Regions from separate parts of the Homo sapiens genome. Here region 2 is linked to region 1. Evidence: fine-mapped expression QTL. A gene starts in region 1. The other region holds a variant in brackets. All regions are shown on one strand. Distances are from middle to middle. Region 1 holds the start of POGZ (pogo transposable element derived with ZNF domain). Region 2 has its middle 11 kb from the start of PSMB4.

Region 1 (4,391 bases):
TTCCTCTAGTTGGGTAAATGCCTACAGAAGTAAAACCCGGCCGGGCGCGGTGGCTGACGCCTGTAATCCCAGCACTTTGGGAGGCCAAGGCGGGCGGATCACCTGAGGTCAGGCGTTCAAGACCAGCCTGGCCAACATGGTGAAACCTCGTCCCTACTAAAAATACAAAAATTAGCCGGGCGTGGTAGCACATGCCTGTAATCCCAGCTACTAGGAAGGCTGAGGCAGGAGAATCACTGGAACCCGGCAGGCGGAGGTTGCAGTGAGCAGAGATCGTGCCACTGCACACCAGCCTGGGCGACAAGAGTGAAACTTCGTCTCAAAAAAAAAAAAAAAAGTAAAACCCCATTTCTGTGGAGTTTTGAGCGGCGGTAAGAGGTGTCTACGGGCTTGGAAGGACGGGCTACACCGCTTGCATCAAGACGGCGGCTGCTGTGAGATAGTCCAACTGCATCTTAGTTTCCATTTCGAAAATGAGACTGGCCACTAAATGACTCTAAGGACTCATCAGCACTACCTTTTTCTGAACTAAGAATGTCTAAGACAAGTGCTACTAGCAGTTTGAGAGAATCCCACATCTGGAGAGGAAGGAAATAAGAACAACACGCAGAAAGACGGAAAACAAATAGATCAATGACAGTACTCCTTTGCAAAAGGTGCCAAGAATCTAAATAAAATAGTCCCCGGGATAAACATGGCGCCCACCGCGGCAGGACATAATCACCAGAAAATAAAGATTCCCCGCCTCATTCCATTTTATAAATCACGGCGCCATCCCAAAAGAAATTTGGGGACCGAGGGAGGAGACTTCGTAAACTAGCTGCAGTGCACTAAGGCTTAGGATGTACTATTAGACCAAGCAGAGATTACATAACACAAGGGATCGGCTCAGCAATCACTCATTTTCCTCCTCCCGCTCAAAACGAGCGCCCCACTCCTTCTCGGAGCGGGAATGGGGCGGGGAGGGCCGCGCACCCCCACCCCCAGGGGCCGCTCCGCCGCCGCCCGCCCCTCCGCCGCACGGCCTCGCCCCCTCGCCGGCCCCTCCCGCCGCGCCCCGCCGTCTCGCCACCGCCCGCGCCCCCGCCCCCGCCCCTTCCCCAGCGGGCCACCGCCCGCGCCCGCGCCGCCCACTCCTCCGAGACGCCTCGCGCCGAGCGTGCGTGTGGACGTCGGGCTGTGTGCGGGGCCGTGGGGCGCGAGTGCGCGCGCGCGCGCCGCGGCGGGCGCCGGGGGGCGGGGGCGGCCGGCCAGCCGGCAGGCAGGGACCTCCGCCGCCGGCCCTTCGCGCGGCTCCCGCGGCCCGGGGCGCACGCACACACACTCGCGCTCGCGCGCCGCACCCCGCGGCCGCCCCTGCCGCGGGCCGCGCCGCCACTCGCGGTGGGCGGGGGCGCGCACCGCCGGCCCCCCGCCCCCACCCCCGCGCGTACCGGCCCCATCCCCCTCTCATTGTCTCGCCTCTGAACGCCTCGCCGAGCGAAAAGATAACGGAACCCCCGGGAGCAGGGGGTGGGGAGAGAGAAGGCTCGCTCGCTCACTCACCTCCTGTGGTCGTCGCCGCCGGTAGTCTGACCCGAGGAAGGCGCCGTCGCCTTAAAGGGACCTTACACCCGGCGCCAGAAGGGGGTGGGAGCAGGGGGAGGGGACGGGGGCTTGGGGGGAGACGAAGAAGAGGTAACCGTTGAAAGCTCGTCTCCCCAAGGGTGAAAGGAAGCCTCCCTCGGGTTCGAGTGATTCGGGGTGGATTTTTTTCCCGAGGGGGGCGGGGGGGCCCCGAGGGAGGGGGGTGGGGGGGCCAAGGAATGCGGCTCCGTGTACGGGAGCTGGCGCGGGGGAGAGAGACGCCGACTCCCCCCACCGACCCTCTCGCCCCGCGGAGGGATACGGCTCGTCACTTCCGCCCTCCCCTTTTTCACGGCCTCCCAATTGGTCGGAGCGCGCTGCACGTCATGGGCTCATCCAAACCCCTGCCCGGGCTTCTTTTCTAGTCAAGTTTGGCTGGGCCTGCAAATAAATAAATAAAGGAAAACATTTTTTGTAATGAAAAAAGAATAATTAGCTTCAGAAGCTATATCTAAATTTTGGTGAGAAAAATGAGACTTCCAAAGAAAATATTCCCCAATTTACTTGCCAAGAGTTTCCAAGGAAGTGTTGGGAGGCTCCCCCACTTTCCACTCAAGGCTTAGACCCAGTCAAGAGGGAGACTTCATGACACAGGCCAGGTGGTGAGGCCCAGTGGCACCAACAACTGTCATTGGAACAAAGAACAAAATGGCACTCACTCTTTCTCAAGAGACACTCGGCCAAGTAACCTTGTGGCTGCGGCCTTGTTTAAGTGAAGAACTTTTAAAAGCCATTTTGATCCTCAAGCCCTTCTGGATCCTGGAAAGAAGTGGCACACGATTGTTAAAGCGATTATTGTGATGGAAACTGCTTTGCTCCCATTGTGAGTAGATTCAGCAGAGATCCCCAGTTCCAAGAAACCACACACACTCCACATCCTTATGCTTTTTGCTCCAATCAAGGCTGAGATGGGTTGGCTCAAAGAAATTGGTTAGTCCACTCAAACGACCATCCACCTGTTTATTCTTCCCCAGACAAAAACTACCTCTTTTCAGGTAGCTAAGAAATTTTGTCCTTTATTGCCTTCTGAGATTATAAAAATGTAATATTTTCCTTGAATATTTGAAAATGTTTGCTATTTAAGCAATACACAAATATTTGCTTCAAACCAAATGTGAAATCAAGGTACTTGGTGCAGAAAGGGGAAATCCAGAACTATGTTTATTTGTGCTCTTTATATACACACTCCATTCAAACCACCAGACTGAAAATAGGCAGTGGAAGTAGGCATTCCAAATTGTATGCACCTGCCCGTGTGAGTGTGCACATGTGCATACACATACACACACTGCCACCACCCAGTTTCATTCCATTTCATACCAAAACCATGTGAGTGATTTCCACTAGTGTAGGATGCTTAGGAAGGACTTCATTATTTGAATGAGAAGAATCACTAAATCCTTCTGAAAATACTTCTGAAGACTTTCCAGACCTGATCTGGAGAAGCCCATATTAGGATTATGGGATCAATCACCAAAAGACTACATGAAACTCAAATCCTATTTTATACTGTCGTGTAATTAGTATAATTCATTATATATGTTATATTTACATTATGTATATTACGTTATTAACCTTTGAAAAATTCCAACATATTTCCCCATGCCCTGTCAATTTATTCTCCCAGCCAATGAGATCTAGCGCAGACTATGCCATATACCGTTGACCAGTAACTGTTAGCATGCTTTATTGAAAATGGATCATGCATCCATTCATTCATTCAATGAATATTTATTGGGGGCTGGGCATGGTGGCTAACACCTGTAATCCCAACACTTTGGAAGGCCAAGGGAGGAGGATCACAGCAGTCTGAGGGCAGCCTGGGCAACTTAGCAACATCCCATCTCTACAAAAAAAAATTTTTTTTTTTTAAACAGAGTCTCGCTCTCTCCCCCAGGCTGGAGTGAAGTGGCGCGATCTCGGCTCACTGCAACCTCCGCCTGCTGGGTGCAATTCTCCTGCCTCAGCCTCCTGAGTAGCTGGGACTACAGGCGTGCGCCACGATGCCTGGCTAATTTTTTCTGTTTTTAGTAGAGACGGGGTTTCACCAAGCAGGCTGGTCTCGAACTCCTGACCTCGTGATCTGCCCGCCTCCGCCTCCCAAAGCGCTGGGATTACAGGCGTGAGCCACCGTGCCTGGCCCCAAAAAATTTTTTTCATTAGCTGGTTGTGGTATTCCTAGATACTTGGAAGACTTGGGAGGATCACTTGAGGCCAGGAGTTTGAGACTGCAGTGAGCTATGATGACACTACTTGCACTCTAGCCTGGGAGGGACAGAGCAAGATCCTGTCTCAAAAAAAAAAAAAAAATTATTGAGCACATGTACTAGGCACTGTTTTAGGTGCTGGGAATACAGCAGCAACAACAACAACAAATACCTGAATCTGTGGGATTTATACTCTAGAAGGAAAGAGACATAAAATATACACATAAACAAATTGTTCTATTGTCTATTGTTAAATAACAAATGACCCCGAACTTAGTGGCTTAAAACAACAATTTCATTACCTCTCATGGTTCTGGGAGGTAATTAGGCTCAGCTAAACAGTTCTCACTTGGGAGTCTCGTATGCAGTGGCTAGGGCTGAAGTAATCTCAAAAGCTTCCTTACATGTCTGGAAGTTGAGGTTGACTGTTGGCTTGGACCGCAGCTGGGGTTGTTGGCAGACCATTTACAAGTGGCTTCTCCATGTAGCCTGGGCTTCCTCATATCATAGTGGCTGAGTTCCAAGACTGAGTGCCCCAAAAGGACCAGACAGAGATCG
Region 2 (4,391 bases), 71 kb before region 1:
AACCCTATTGTGAACTGTGCATGAGAGGGATCTTTGTTGTACACTCCTTATGAGAATCTAATGCCTGATGATCTGAGGTGGAACAATTTCATCCCAAAACCACACCCCATCCCCCGCATCTGTGAAAAAATTGTCTTCCATGAAACCCATCACTGGTGCCAAAAAGATTGGGGACCATTGCTATAGGACATTTTTGAAATGATAACATTATAAAGATGGAGAACAGACAGTGGTTGACAGGAGTTAAGGGGGTGTGGGGTTGGGAAGGAAGTGCATGTGGCTGTAAAAGAGATCCTTGCAGTGATGGAAATGTTCTATATCTTGACTGTGTCAATGTCAATATCCTGGTTGTGATAATGTACTATAGTTTTGCAAGATGTTATCAATTGAGAGAAACTGTGTAAAGGGCAATCTTTCTGTTATTTCTTACAACTTCATGGGAACCTACAATTATCTCAAAATACAAAGTTTAATTTAAAACATGAGAACAGTAATTTATTTATTTATTTATTTTTTCCTCTCGAGACAGAGTCTCGCTCTGTCACCCAGGCTGATCTCAGCCTGGGTGTGATCTGGGCTCACTGCAACCTCCACCCCGGGGTTCAAGCAATTCTCCTGGCTCAACCTCCCAAGTAGCTGGGATTACAAGTGCCTGCCACCACACCCATTTAATTTTTTTGTATTTTTGGTAGAGACGGGGTTTCACCATGTTGGCCAGGCTGGTCTCAAACTCCTGAGCTCAGGTGATCCACCCGCGTTGGCCTCCCAAAGTGGTGGGATTACAGGCATGGCCCACCGCACCCAGCCGAGAACAGGAATTTCTACCTATATTTCCTTCCTTACTGTGTTGTGTGTGTTTGTATGTGTGTGTGTTTAATTTGTAGCATTTGCCAGTTTCTGTGGTGTAAATACTCCCACTACAGCTGTTTTCAAGCTAACATTGTGATACCACAAAAAATGGAATTGGGAAGGCACAATCAAGATTAACAAGCCAGTTTAGACCAAGACAATTTTTCTGCCCTATTAGTTGGGCACAAGTTAGAAAGGCTGATAGTATCTCATGTTGGAAAGGTGAGAGAGAAGGGCCCTCATGCATTATTAATGGCATATGCATTGAAGTGCCCTTGTTTGAGGGCAATGCTGTTAGTAACTTTTAAAATATGAGATGTCATACTTTTTGACTGAAAATACAACTCTTGTAGGATTCTATTTTATAGAACTACTTAGGTGCATAAATATACAAAAATAACTGTCATTGCAGCATTATTTGTAATAGTGGAAACAGAAGACTTTTCATTAATAAGAGAATGGTTAGGCCAGATCCAGTGGCTCACACCTGTAATCCCAACATTTTGGGAATCCAAGGCAGGAGGATCGCTTTAGCCTAGGAGTTGGAGACCAGCATGGGCAACATAACAAGACCTTGTCTCTACTAAAAAAAAATAATAATAATTAGTCTGGCATGGTGGCACACCTGTACTCCCAGCTACTTGGGAGGCTGGGGCAAGGAGGATTGCTTGAGCCCAGGAGATTGAGGCTGCAGTGAACTGTGATCACACCACTGCACACCAGCCTGGGTGACACAGCAAAACTCTGTCTCAAAAAAAAAAAAAAAAAAAGCACTTCGGAGGTCGAGGGAGGCGGATTGCCTGAGCTCAGGAATTTGAGACCAGCCTGAGAAAAATGGTGAGACTCCATGTCTGCAAAAGATATAAAAATTAGCTGGCTGGTGGGCGCCTGTAGTCCCAGGAACTGGGGAGGCTGAAGTGGGAGGATGGCTTGAACCTCTGGGAGGCGGAGACTGCAGTGAGCCGTGACCCACCACTGCACTGCAGCATGGCCAACAGAGCCAGACCCTGTCTCAAAAATAAAATAAAATAGGCCAGGTGCAGTGGCTCACACCTGTAATCCCAGCACTTTGGGAGGCCGAGGTGGGCGGATCACCTGAATCAGGAGTTTGAGACCAGCCTGACCAACATGGAGAAACCCCGTCTCTACTAAAAAATACAAAATTAGCTGGGCGTGGTGGCGCATGCCTGTAATCCCAGCTACTCAGGAGGCTGAGGCAGGAGAATTGCTTGAACCTGGGAGGCGAAGGTTGCAATGAGCTGAGATCGCGCTATTGCATTCCGGCCTGAGCAACAAGAGCGAAACTCCATCTCAAAAATAAATAAATAAATAAATAAAATAAAATAAATAAAAATTAGCCAGGCATGGTGATGCGAGCCTGTGGTCCCAGCTACTCAGTAGGCTGAGGCAGGAGGATCACTTCAGCCCGGGAGGTTGAGGCTGCAGTGAGCCATGGATTGCACCACTACACTCCAGCCTGGGTGACAGAGTGAGACCCTGTCTCAAAAAGAAAAAAAATGGTTAAATAGTTCATAATATATCTGTGCTGTGGAATATTGTGAAGCAATTACAACAAGTTA[A/G]GTAGACTATACAGGGGAGGAGGGCCAAGACATTTGAGAGCAAAAAGCAGGCTGCCAAACTGTATATAACACGATTCCATTCCAAAAAATAATTCTGTTTGCATGTGGATAAAAACAGTCTAGAAAGACACAAGATAAAAATGAAGGTTACTTGGGAAAAGAGTGAAGTTGGGTAATTTTTACTTTGTATATTTATTTATTTGGGAGAGTTTTGCTCTTGTTGCCCAGGCTGGAGTGCAATGGCGCTATCTCGGCTCACTGCAACTTCTGCCTCCCAGGTTCAAGCGATTCTCCTGCCTCAGCCTACCAAGTAGCTGGGATTACAAGCACCTGCCACCACGCCCGGCTAATTTTTGTATTTTTAGTAGAGACGGAGTTTCACCATGTTGGCCAGGCTGGTCTCAAACTCCTGACCTCAGGTGATCTGCCCACCTCGGCCTACCAAAATACTGGAATTACAGGCATGAGCCACCACGCCCAGCCTTATTATTATTATTATTATTATTATTATTATTATTATTATTTTATTTTATTTTATTTTTTGAGACAAAGTCTCGCTGGGTAGCCCAGGCTGGAGTGCAGTGGTGCAATCTCGGCTCACTGCAACCTCCACCTTCTGGGTTCAAACGATTCTCCTGCCTCAGGCTCCCAAGTAGCTGGGACTACAGGCGCCCGCCACCACGCCTGGCTAATTTTTTTATTTTTTTATTTTTAGTAGAGACGGGGTTTCACTATGTTGGCCAGGGTGGTCTTGAACTCCTGACATCGTGATCTGTCCGCCTCAGCCTCCCAAAGTGCTGGGATTACAGGCGTGAGCCACCGCGCTCGGCCGTACCTGTCCTTCTTGGGAAGGCTTTCCAGGTATTTGAAGGGACTTAGGTGTTGTCATCTAAGCTGTCTCTGCATTAGGCGGCACCCCAAGCTCAGTAATGCTGTGGTCCCTGCAGCCTCATAGAGTACCACCTTGGTGGTCCTGAATAAGAGCCAAAATAATTCTCTGGATTACCAGGTAGAAATTCCTATTCTCTTCTTGTATTTTCTTCCAAACAAACAGAGTCTCTCTCAAAGTCTCAAAGCCATTTGTAGTGGCATAAGGATCTTGCCTGTGAATAGCCACTGCTCTCCAGCTTGGGCAACATAGTGAGAACTCATCTGTCAAAAAAAAATTTTATAGTAATGCTGAAATCTAAAATCGTATTATAACCTCTCTCAACCCACCATTTCCCTTTCCAGGGACCAAGTTACTCCCTTCCTCCCCTTTCCCCAGGAAAGCCTACTTCCTGCTTTAATTCCATTATAATTGGCAGATTTCATTTATTTTTATTTATTTATTTTGAGACGGAGTCTCGCTCTGTCGCCCAGGCTGGAGTGCAGTGGCGTGATCTCGGCTCACTGCAAGCTCCGCCTCCCGTGTTCTCGCCATTCTCCTGCCCCAGCCTCCCGAGTAGCTGGGATTACAGGCGCCCGCCACCACGCCGACTAATTTTTTGTATTTTTAGTAGAGACGGGGTTTCACCGTGTTAGCCAGGATGGTCTCGATCTCCTGACCTCGTGATCCGCCCGCCTTGGCCTCCCAAAGTGCCGGGATTACAAGCATGAGCCACCACGCCCGGCCGCTTTCATTTATTTTTTATTGCTGGAAAATGTTTCAGAAGTTCCTTACTTTTTTCCCAGAGTGTCATTATAAGTAAGACTATATAAAACTCATTTTCAACTGCCACTATGACTCAATTTTACACACATGCGCGCGCATCCCCCACCCTCGCCTGCCCACATTCTTAGTGTTGTTTTGTGTGTTTAAATTAGCGCAGATGGTACCATATCATATATGTCATTCTGTGGTTTATCTGGTTCACTCAACAATGTGTTTGATATGTTAGGTTCTTTCCTTTAAGCTACCTTGTAGTATTCTTTTGTAATAATATACTGCATTTTATCTACTCCCCCTTGATGAGCATTTAG

What was found. PIP is the estimated chance that this variant, and not a neighbour inherited with it, causes the effect. A credible set is the group of variants that fine-mapping cannot tell apart.
Region 2: its variant is the best candidate, but not a certain one, in a credible set for the expression of POGZ in whole blood (INTERVAL, PIP 0.50).

The regions. Positions count from the first base shown.
Region 1 is chr1:151,457,607-151,461,997 of GRCh38, forward strand. It overlaps POGZ (pogo transposable element derived with ZNF domain), which reads right to left and starts at 1,888. Exons shown (of 19, transcript NM_015100.4): 1 at 1,546-1,888. RefSeq lists silencers at 989-1,038, 1,229-1,278 and an enhancer at 2,109-2,158.
Region 2 is chr1:151,386,246-151,390,636 of GRCh38, forward strand. No RefSeq gene overlaps it. Among named protein-coding and RNA genes, the nearest start is that of PSMB4, 11 kb to the right of the region's middle. The variant A/G (reference allele first, on the strand shown) is at 2,430.